Linked DNA regions of Homo sapiens: region 1 is reported to be linked to region 2. Evidence: microRNA targets listed by miRTarBase, many of them from high-throughput screens and not tested one by one. Region 2 holds a microRNA gene; the other region holds the end of a gene's coding sequence.
Evidence for each region. Region 2 holds the annotated microRNA hsa-miR-3131 (UCGAGGACUGGUGGAAGGGCCUU, at 3,006-3,028, opposite strand). A microRNA usually pairs through its seed, bases 2 to 8, with sites in the 3' UTR of a target mRNA and lowers its output. Matches are read on the target gene's strand: a 7mer-m8 pairs with bases 2 to 8, a 7mer-A1 pairs with bases 2 to 7 and ends in A, and an 8mer does both.

Region 1: the mRNA of GDI1 is a reported target of hsa-miR-3131. Seed matches in the 3' UTR shown: 7mer-A1 at 4,355-4,361.

The regions. Positions count from the first base shown.
Region 1 is chrX:154,441,721-154,447,077 of GRCh38, reverse strand. GDI1 (GDP dissociation inhibitor 1) reads right to left here. Exons shown (of 11, transcript NM_001493.3): 8 at 5,284-5,357; 9 at 4,823-4,967; 10 at 4,650-4,704; 11 at 3,611-4,558. The coding sequence ends at 4,406. It overlaps FAM50A (family with sequence similarity 50 member A), which reads right to left and starts at 2,937. Exons shown (of 13, transcript NM_004699.4): 1 at 2,732-2,937; 2 at 1,361-1,445; 3 at 1,167-1,266; 4 at 518-663. The coding sequence starts at 2,842. RefSeq lists enhancers at 1,608-2,175, 2,743-3,310 and silencers at 2,440-2,529, 2,540-2,749, 2,760-3,109.
Region 2 is chr2:219,055,720-219,061,076 of GRCh38, forward strand. MIR3131 (microRNA 3131) reads right to left here and starts at 3,031; the gene lies at 2,969-3,031. IHH (Indian hedgehog signaling molecule) reads right to left here and starts at 5,202. Exons shown (of 3, transcript NM_002181.4): 1 at 4,434-5,202; 2 at 1,714-1,975; 3 at 1-146. The coding sequence starts at 4,748.

The sequences.
Region 1 (5,357 bases), not on the chromosome of region 2:
CTTCAGTGCATGGTGACCCGTGACTTCCACCAGGAGAGGGACAGCACCCTATGTGCCCTGGCCAGGCACAGCACAGGTGTGTGGCACACGTGGAGGCCAGGCTGGCTTTACCCTCACTCCCCAGCCATCCTGAGCTTTCCCTGACAGCCCCTTGTTCTCACAGCTGAGACCTGCAGTGTCTGACTAGTAGCCTCGGAATTTCTGTGGCTGTATACATTTACGCTGAAACAAATCAAACAGAATTCACCATTTAGTGCCCCAGTCATACGAGGCACCTGGGGCAAGTGGCTACCATATTGGGTGGCACAGACTCTAACATTTCCATCATCACAGAAAATGTGCCCAGCCAGCCTGGTCTAGACCAGCCTCTTCCCTCCCCGGTCTACTGTGCGCGGTGCCTCAAGAGGGCAGCTTTTGGAGCCATCTTGACAGGGCATCAGCTTTGCTGACAGCCTCTCACATTGGGGACCCCTCCCCAGGGGCTGCGGGCGGGGCTCCGACTCAAGCCAGCCCTCACCTTCCCTTTCCATCTCCTCCTCATACATGGCCGCCTCCTCTTCCTCCTCGCCTCCCTCTTCTTCCTCCTCCAGGGTGAAGGACAGGCTGGAGATCTTCCGCTTGGCTTCCTTCTTACGCTCCTTCTCTCGAAGCTTCTCCAGCTTCCTAGTGAGGTGCAGGTGGCCCCATCACACATCATGTCCTTCCCGACCCTGACCCAGCCCCTTCCTTGACCCAGAGCCACCTGTGTGCCCTATGTGGGGCCTGCCCAGCCCAGGCTGGGTCCCCATTGCCCCAGACGGGTCCTGCTGTCCTGGATCACTTTGAGCTCATGGGCGAGGGCTCTGTTACAAACAGCAAGCACAGAGGGCCACAGGGGAGAGCCAAGCACAGGCTGGCAATGGGGAGAACGCAGGCTGCTCAGGCACCGGATGCTGGGAAAGGGCCCACTGCATTTAGAGGGTCAGAAAGAAGACAAGCCGCCATGGTGAAAAGACGTGAGCGTGGACCCGAGGAGGCGGGAGAGAGAAATGCAAATCGCAAGCTAGATGCTACCCCTGTCCCAAAGCTGGAGACAGGGTCCCCCCCAGGGTGCAAAAAGAGCCCGACCAGCCACGGGACCCCGTAAGCACTAGCTCCATGTTGAGGGCTGCGGCGAGAGGACCCACATCTGCAGCTCCTTGGACTGCTCCTTCTTGGCCAGCTGCTTCTCCCGCTCCTTCACCAGAGCCTCCTGCTTGGCCTTCATGTCATTCAGGGTCACGAGACCTTTGAAGCAAGGAGGCACAAGGGGCAAGGTAGTCGCAGGGCCAGCGGAAGAGTGGCCCGGGGCCCGGGTGAGGGGCACCCGCACCCTGCTCACCCACGGTGCTGGACTTGAGCTCTGCCTCCACCGCGTCGTAGTGCGCAGAGAACTTCTTGTCAATGTTGGATTTCATGATGTTCTCCTGCGGGGAGTGACAGCCACCATGAGAACCACCCCTCACTGTGGAAATGGCAGGCTGGCCATCAAGGACCTGCGTTATAGTCCAAATCTGCCCCTGTGCCCTTGTCGATGGAAGGTTCCATGAGGCTGGGCAGGGCTCTTCAAATGCTAAGAGTGCCAAATGGGGCTGTTTCCATCCCTGAGCTGCTCTGGCTCTTCAGGTCTCCTGCTGGGGATCACAGGTCCCTCAGTAGCCTGAAGCCACCGACCCTACTGACCTTTGGCCTTTTTCATCTCCAGCCTTTAAGCTGAAGCTTCCGAGACCCAAGCCAAGGGTTATGAGGAGAGGGCAAACAAGAACAGAGTGGTTGAGGGGCCTGGCCCCTCCCTGAGTGATTTTCCTCCCTCCAGGCCCCAGAATGTCATCAACAGCTTCCCAGGAGGCCTCTCTTTGGCCCCAGCCCCAACCCACTTGGTACCATGTCAAGCCCTCGCTGACCAGTGGTCTCCCAAGAAGGTGGCTGGCAGAGAAATACACCTTCTGCTTGCTGGGCACCCCGGCTCAGACAGTGCGGCCAGGGCATGAGGACTTGGTGTTTCAAGGCTCCTCTGGCCAGGCTTCCCCAGTTCCCCAGGCAGGAGCCTGCTCTCCCCTGGAGCCCCGAGTCCTGATGAGTGAGTCTCCCCAAAAGGATCAAGCTCCTCCACGCTCCTTCCCTGACCACCACCATCACAGGCCACTCACGGAAGCAGTGGGTGAACCGCTGGCACCCGGGAGGGTCGTGCCTGCCTCACAGGTGCAAGGGGTTCTGGAAGGAGCCTCCTGGCCAGTGGACTTGCCAGGTCTGGCTCAGGCCTCCCCGCCTCTCCAGGGGGAGACGAACCGCCCTGCCCGGTGTCCATAGGACCAGGGCAGAGGCCTGGCTCTGAGGGCCGAGGGGGCAGAGGCCTGGCTCTGAGGGCCGAGGGGCCAGAGCCAGGACGCTGGGTGCCCAGGCGAGGCGACGAGAGGCCCGTCCCCGCCGTGCCTCCCAACAGAAACACTGGCTCGGCTCCCTCCTGCCGGAGGCCGGTCATCAGCTAGTGGCCTCAGCCTCGGAGAACGCCCGGCTCCAGGCCCATTTCACAGATGAGACTGTCGCTGGCTTGCTTCTGTGTGCCCTGCTGGAAGTCAGCGAGCCAGGGGCCTGCCCCGGCGCGCCGCCCGCGCTCCGTGGCCACCGCCCCAGGGCTTCCAGGGCCGGAGCGTGGCGCGGGGCCGCCGGGGACCTGGGCAGCGCGCATGCTCCGAGGCTCCCCGGCTCGCACCTCCGCGATGCGCTGCTTCATCTGCTCCATCTGCTCGCGCTGCTTCTCCCGCTTCTTCATCAGGTGCATGGCGCGGCCGGCCTCGCTCGCGGCGCCCTTGTATTGAGCCATGGCAGCGGCGGCGGCGGCGGCGGCGGCGGCGGGCGGCGGCGGCGGCGACAGCGACAGCGGCAGCGGCAGCGGCGGTGGCGGCCGAACAGTCAGCTGACGCCCGCGCCGTGACGTCAGCCACCAGGAGACGCACGGATGCCCCGCCCCGCCGCGCGCCAGCTGGCCCGGAGCGTGACCACCGCCCGCCCCGCCCCGCCGGAGACCGCCCCTGGTCCTGCGTGGACTCCCGCCCCAGCCCCCGCCGCCGGCTCCTGTGGACCCCGGAGGCTGAATTCCCCAGCCCCTCGCGCTGCCTCGACGTTAACCCGAGCCAAGGCTGGGCCCCGGTCCCTCTAATTCCTCCTGGTGACCCCAACGCTGGTCCCCTGGCTGCCCTAGTTCCCCCGCATTAAGCCGAAAACTGGCACCCGTCTCCCTGCTTCACTTAGAATCCCATCCGAGGCTGGCCCCTGGTCCCCTCTGCCCTCTCCTTTCAAGCCAGAGGCCAGGACCCCCGCTCCCTCTGCTTCCTCCACGTTGACACCCGCCCTCCACCACACTCCCCCTGCATTGAGCACTGAGGGCTGCAGTCCTGGTGCCAGCATCGACTCACTGGGTAGCCTTAAGCTTTAAGTCAATTTGGCCCCAGCGTGCTCTGGGTGAGGAATTCCCTGGTGAAGAATGCCACCTTTTACAGTCCAGAGTGAAGCTAAGCCAGAGCCCCAACCCAGGCAGCCAAAGCCCTGCCAGGTACCCAGCTTTTGGGAGATAACCATCAAGATCCAGAGATTCAGGTTTCAACCGTTTTATTGGGAGGTTTTGTTTTCTGTGAAATACACTAGAGGGTGGGGAAGGGGACACATTCACTTTGCAAGATAAGGGTTTCCCACCACTAAAGGAAAGGCATGGGGCAGGGCACACTGGGGTTTGGGTCCGTTTTCCCACCTCCTTCTGCTTGGCTCACTTTTCTTTTCTCTCAGCAAGTACCACAGAACACAAAGACAAGAAACAAAACAGCAAATCAACCTCCAACGGGGCCATGCCCAAGCCTTCCCCACTCCCCCAGGCTGGGCAAGGGCTGGGAGGGGCTGGGGCAGCTCACTCGACAGCCCTCAGGCCACACGGGAAGGCTGCAGGCTCAGAAAGGGTGGGTCAAAGTTAATAAATTAGAATAAATTAGGGGGGAGGAATGCAACTTTGTGCTGGGAGGGCCCCTTCTCTCCAACACGCGAGAGTTGGTGGGGGGGAGGTGGGGGCATCTCCAAAGGCCACTACAGTGGGGGTAAGAGCGGTGGGGGCAGAAGTCACCTTTTCCTCCACGTCTTCCCAAACAGAGCAGAAGAATTAGGGGTGGGGGGAAGAGACACACACAAGGAGAGGAACCCTCTTTTCCTAGGATAAGGAAGGGCCAAGAAAGAGGATGCTATCCAACCCCCCATCTCCCAAGCCATCGCTAGGGTTAAGGATTTGGTCAGTGGATCAATGAGGTGGGTGATGGGAACGTGGTGGGGGAAGCAGAGGATGCTGGAGCCCTCGAGGAGAACAGACACAGGCTGGGGCAGCAGGGGCTGGGGGCGGCCACAATCACTGCTCAGCTTCTCCAAAGACGTCGTTCTGTTTGCGCTTCATGTTCTCAAAGTCAAAGGCCGTGCCAGCCATGCGTTTGTAGATGTCTTTGATGTCGTTGCAGGTTGTCTCAAAGTGTGTGGTGGCATCGTAGGAGCAGGAACAGAACACCTGGAAACAGCCAGAGCCCAGCGCCCAGGGTGAGTCAGACAGGTATCCTGGGCGGGCAGCCAGGAGCCCAGGGCTGGGACGAGCTGCTTACCTGGCTCTCACAACCATCATCAATGGGCTCATACAAGTCACTGATAGCCACAAACCTGAGGGGCAGACAGAGGGGAGGGGACAGGCCTCACAATGGGCCATGCCCTTCCTGGTCCCTAAGCCCAGCTGCTGGGCTCCCTCCCTCTCCCCCTTGGGCTCAGCCCAGTCCCTCACTTCTGGTCAATGGGCTCCAACAGCTCCAGAGCCGGCTCCACCTCCTTTTCAGGGTCCGTGGTCTCCACAGTAGTGCTGGCAATAGCTATGTACTTGCCCTGGGCCGCCACGTTGTGTGCATAGGAGATCATGCACACGTAGATGTCTGGCCACAGGAAGAGCTCCGTCAACTCAGGCCAGAGGCGCTGGCCATACGCAGAGAGGGGTTCCAGTGGCTGGACACAAGTCTGGCCCGACTGCCCCTCCCCAGCCCCGCAGAGCAGGTAGCATCCAAGCCGCCACCCTCCCAGAGGGAAAGAGTCCAGGCCACCCAAACCCTAGGGCTCCAAGTTGTGGTGGCTACAATGTGGCTCAAATTTTTTTCCAGAGAGGTAAGGCAGGGAGCTCCCACACTGATGGGGAGAAAAAGAGTAACCCCAAAGAGAACACCCTAGAGGAAGCTGTACCAGCGCCCGGCCTACCTGACTTCCTGTTGACCTGGTTCTGGGGGATGATTATTTGGCAGGAGTTGGCGTCGTTGGTGTTCTTGATGGGG
Region 2 (5,357 bases):
GCTGAAGGTGGGGCTCCCATCCTCCCCCATGGCCAGCACACGGTCTCCCGGCCTCACGGCTGACAAGGCCACACGCGCCCCACTCTCCAGGCGTACCTGGGCTCCGGCAGGGAAGCAGCCGCCCGTCTTGGCTGCGGCCGAGTGCTCTGTGGGAGAAAGGGACATGAAGGTGTTACTGCTGTGCAGCTCAGCCTCCTGGTCACAACGACCCTCCCTTGGCCACCCCAGCCAGCCAGAGCTCCTCTTGCTCCCAGAGAGCCCCCGTCACCATATCCCAGCTCCTGCCCCCCACTTCCTATGCAGGCTTGAACCCATACTTCACTGCCCCCATCCCCTTACTCCAATGTGATCTTCTGTGACCCCCCTCCCCAGCCTAATACCTTGCCAAGGAGCATAGTGGGGCTCCAAGACCCAGTGGATGAGAAGGAAAGGGCTACCTCATGGAAGGGGGAGGTTGCTTAGCTCCTCCGAGGCCTAGATGTTCTGTTATTTCTCACCCCTTGCTCAGACACTTCCCAAAAATTGCCCTCTCAGGCTGACTCCCCAGGTTCTGTAACAGAGCTGGACCTTTGAATGTAGGGATGTGAGAGGAGCCCACCCAGTGGGGCAAAGGCAGACTCCTGGGCAGCCTCGGAGTGAATGTTTGGGTCAGGGGCAGGCCAGGGGCGAGGACACAGTCACCATCTTCAGTTCACATGCTGAGTCCCTGTGCAGGGACAGAACACTGCGGCATCAGCAGGTGAGCTGGAGAACAGTGTTTGGGGGTCAGGAGTAATGAATGGAAGTGGTTGTCGTGGGTCAATGTTTGCAGTGAAGGGTGGATGGGCCTTGCAGTAGACACAGTTGGCAGGGGAAGTATTGAGTGGAAGGTTCAGGGTGTGGTTGTGGGTCAGGGTAGGGTCAGGAATATCAAAATGTGGGCCTGGGCTCAGTGTGCGGGTCTATGAGAGTGCAACTATTACACGCTGCCAGTGTGAAAGGCTGAGCCGGCAGCCAGGTGGGGCTTGGCTGGGAGCCACACAGGAACCATTTGGAGCCTCCATGGCTGGGTTCAGTGTAGGTGACAGGGTGCTGACAAGACTTGAGGGAGGGGTGAGGCCCCAGTGCCTGCCAATTCTGATCAACAATGCGGCCAATCTGGGAAAATCCACTTTATTGAGTCCACTTTGTTTAGTCTGGCTCTCCTGGCTGGCTTTGCCCCAAAATGTCCAGCTTCAGGGCACAGGGGGAGAGGTTGGGGACGCCTGCGCCCCAGGGAGGGCTGACCTGCAGCTGGGTGGTGGGTTCTGAGCCTCTGGGCTCCTGGTCAGGCATGCAGGTGTCTGGGCATACCCCGGCTCCTGGCCCCACCACCCGCCTTGTTCTGTGCCAGGTGGGGTGGGGAGGCCTTGTCTGGCAGCCTGGCTTCCTCCATCTGTCCAGCTTGCTCTGTCTTGCACCTCCTGTGGCAGGCTCTGGACTGTGGGCCACCAGGTCAGCACCCAGCAGCCCTGGGACAGGGCCCTATCGCCCTAGGCTCCTACCATGACACTGCCAGGCATGGGATGAGCAGGCAGTCACGGTCAGGAGCAGCCTTGGAGAGCGCCGCTGATGTCCTCTTCCCCCGGATCCCTGCCTCCATCCCCGGGCGGGCTCTTCACCTTCTCGGCACTACTCCTCCTGCCCATGCCCTGCGGCCCCGGCCCCGGGCCCAGCCCCCCGGCGGCGGCTCACCGGACTTGACGGAGCAATGCACGTGGGCCTTTGACTCGTAATACACCCAGTCAAAGCCGGCCTCCACTGCCAAGCGCGCCAGCAGTCCATACTTATTGCGGTCGCGGTCTGATGTGGTGATGTCCACCGCGCGGCCCTCATAATGCAGGGACTCCTCTGAGTGGTGGCCGTCCTCGTCCCAGCCCTCGGTCACCCGCAGCTTCACACCGGGCCACTGGTTCATCACCGAGATAGCCAGCGAGTTCAGGCGGTCCTTGCAGCGCTGGGAGAGGAATGTGCGCGAAATCAACCAGAGCGAAATCAGCCGGAGGAGCCGGCCGAGGTGCAGGTGTAGGCGCAGCCTCGCCCAGAACTCTCCCGCCACACCCAAGGGAGCTGGAAGCCCGGGAGGGTGCTGTCCCTCTCCCTTAGGAACAGAGGGCCCTGAAGTGCTCCCTCCCTAGCATACAGCCGCCCCCGGGGATCTGGACCGCACGGCGGTATCACAAATCTGGAGGAGGCATGGAGGCAAGCGCCCTGGCGGCGCCTTCACTGGTAGGTGGAGGTCCCCTCTCTCCTGTGCTGTCTTCAGCTCCGGGTATCCATCCCTCCACAGACAGGACTACACCTTTCAGCGCCCGGTCCCTCTGTGCCTCCAAGGCAGGAGGGCCAGCCAGCGGCCGGGAGGGAGGAGTGGCAGCAGAGCCGACTGCCTGCGGCCGGCCTGCGAGGCGTGCAAGGCCCGAGGTGCCCAGTAGGTGTCACCGCAGCCTCAGGGCTGAGGCCTGGGGACGACAGGCTCTGGAGGCGCGGCAGGTGCAGAGCGTCTCGGTAGCTTCAGGGGGTGTGTTGGAGGGGAATCGCCGGCCTGCCTGGATCCCTCGAGCACCACCGAGGATTCCCGCCGGGACCCTCTTATAATCTTAAACCGGCCCACAACCCCGCCAGAGATGACAGGGCCAGGGAACCAGAAACCGGCGGATTAGCGCCAGGGCCGCCCAATGGGGGGCCACATGCAACGTCTTCCTCTGCAAGGCGCAAAAGGGGCTGACAATCCCAGACCTCCAGGACCTCTGCACCGGTGCCCCGCCCCTATACCGTAGGAAGGAACTCCATAAACCAAGCTTCTGATCTCAGGGAGCCAGCTCCACCATCCTCCTCACGTGGAGTTGGGGTAGAGCCGCGCCCTGGGGGAAGGACCGAAGCGGTCATCCTTGGTTGCTGCCTCCTGGTGTGCCTGGGTCCTGAGAGCCCAAGAGACTGTGCAGCTGACTCTGAGAAGAAGCTGGGGCCAGGGCCTTGGTCTGAGGGGAAAGGCCCTTCCACCAGTCCTCGACTCTGAGACTCTGAGATTCGAGGCGCCAACAAGTGTGGGCAGCCCAAGTCTCAACCTACCCCCACCCTGCAGAGCCCGGGCCTCACAGACCCTTGGACTCAGCCTTCCTAGGAGCCAATAGCAGCTACAACCCAGGGCCTCGCAGGTCCTCGCTGGTGCACAGCCTGGCTGGGGGTGCTTACTGCCCAGGGAGGGAGCTCCGCTTGCTCCTTCGTAGACCCTGCCGTCAGGCTTCTAGCCCCGCACCTATGCCCGCCTGCAGCCCTGGTTCCCCGCCTCTCTCCCTCACTGCCACCGCCCCCTCTCGGGTCCAGAGCCCGGGCGTGCGCTGTCAATGATTGCCCAGCCCGTGGCCCGGATCCTTATCTGCATTCCTCGGCGCCCGGCCCGGCCCGGCCACCAGCCAACCTTCGGCCCCGACACTGGCCGGCCAGCCCCGGCGCCAGGGTGCATGCTGAGGGCCCTGAGTCTAGCTGCTCTTCCCAACGGATCTAGAAAGCCAGGGGCCTGCTTTCAGGGGGAAGCCTCGGGAGACCCCGAAGGAAGGGGGTGAAGGTCTCTCCCCTCGCGGACCTGGCTGCTGGGAAGGAATTTGCGCCTCTAAGCTTGGGTGGAGCGCGGGTCCTACTCCAGCATGCAGAGACTAGCGTCAGCCCTGGTCCCTGCCTCCCTCGGCATCTCAGCCCCTCTTTTCCACTCCTTCCCGTCCCCACCACCAAGCCCAGGAATCCCCTAAGCTCAGTCCCAGAGCCCGAAGGCCCCAATAACCCACCCTTCCACCGCAGTAGCACCCCTCAGCTCTCCGGACAGACACGTGGGCTCGCTGGGCAGGTTCCTTTTCCCACCTCCGCCTCCCGATTCAACTCTTCCTCGCTGTTCTTAACCCCAGACCCAGCCGGGACGCTGCTCCTGGAAGGGGCAGCCCGTAGAACCAAGAGCGCACAGGGAGGAAAGGCCGTGGTGACCCTACGCACCCAGAGATTCTTTGCCTCAGGGGTGCCGAAAAGTTTCAAAATGAAAGGGGCACAGCTGTGCAGAAGGTTAGGCCGGGAGGGACTGCGTGGGTCCTGGAGGCGCAGGAGGCAGCCGGGTAGAGGTACCTCCGGGTGCAGCGTCTGGCTGAGCTGCCAGTACTTTGGGGCAGAGGAGCCGCCGCCAACCTGCTGGGCTGTGGGGCTTGGCAGCGGGGAGCTCTTCTAGCAGTCTCCTCCGGGCTTGGGGATGCCGACACTCCTGCCTGGACCCCTGGCCAGCCCATCTTGGGCAGGAGGCAGCGGGGCTTGGCGAGAGGGGCAGGTGCCAGGGAGCGTGCCAGCCAGTCGAGAAAATGTGCCAGGGGGTGGGTAGGGCCGGGCAGGTGGCCGTGCTTCGGTGGCGGCGCGCTGGTAGGGCGGATCGCGCTCACCTGGGTCATGAGGCGGTCGGCGCCTGTGTTCTCCTCGTCCTTGAAGATGATGTCTGGATTGTAATTGGGGGTGAGCTCCTTGAAGCGCTCGGAGCTGCGAGCGATCTTGCCTTCATAGCGTCCGCTGGCGCCCAGGGTCTTCTCGGGCACATTGGGGCTGAACTGCTTGTAGGCGAGCGGCACGAGTTTGCGTGGCGGTCGCCGGCGGCTGCCCACCACCCGACCCGGCCCGCAGCCCCATGCCGCCGGCACCACCAGCAGCAGCAACAGGACCAGGCAGAAGTGCAGTCGGGGCCGGAGCCGGGCGGGAGACATGGCCGGGGAGCCCGGGGGAGCGGCGGGCGAGGTCTCCTGGTGGGCTGATGGGCAGGCGCGTCGACGGGAGCGCTGCGGGGGCTCAGGCGTCCGGGTGGCTCCGGGGGGCTCCAGGCGGGGGCGCCATGGGCGGCGTGGTGCGGCCAGGGCCGGCGGGACTCAAGTGCGGGGCGGGGGCCCAGGGCCCGAGCTGGTGGCGGCGCGCTGTCCCCCTCGGCGCCTCGACTCTGAGCTGCCGGGCTCGCCGGCCGCCAATAAATAGGCCGGCCCGTTTGTTTTGGCAACGCGGCGGCGGCGGGGGGCGGCGGGCGGCGGGGCTGCGGGCCGCCGGGCTGGGCTGGGCTGGCCGGGCCGGCGGGCTGCAGGGCCCCGCGGTTAGCACCCCGGCCCGGCGGTCAGGCGGCTCGGGCGGAGCGGGAGCTGCTGCCGTCTGCGGCGCAGCCCGGGGCCGAGTGAGAGGGGAAATGGAAGAGATCCGGGCTCGGGCCCCGCGCAGACCGCACCCTACCCATGTCCCTGCCTCCTGTGCGCTCGACAGCGAACCTGCAGCAAGGGCAGCACAGCCTCCTCCCCCTCGGGCGGGCGGCCCCGGCACTAGCCAGCCCTCGT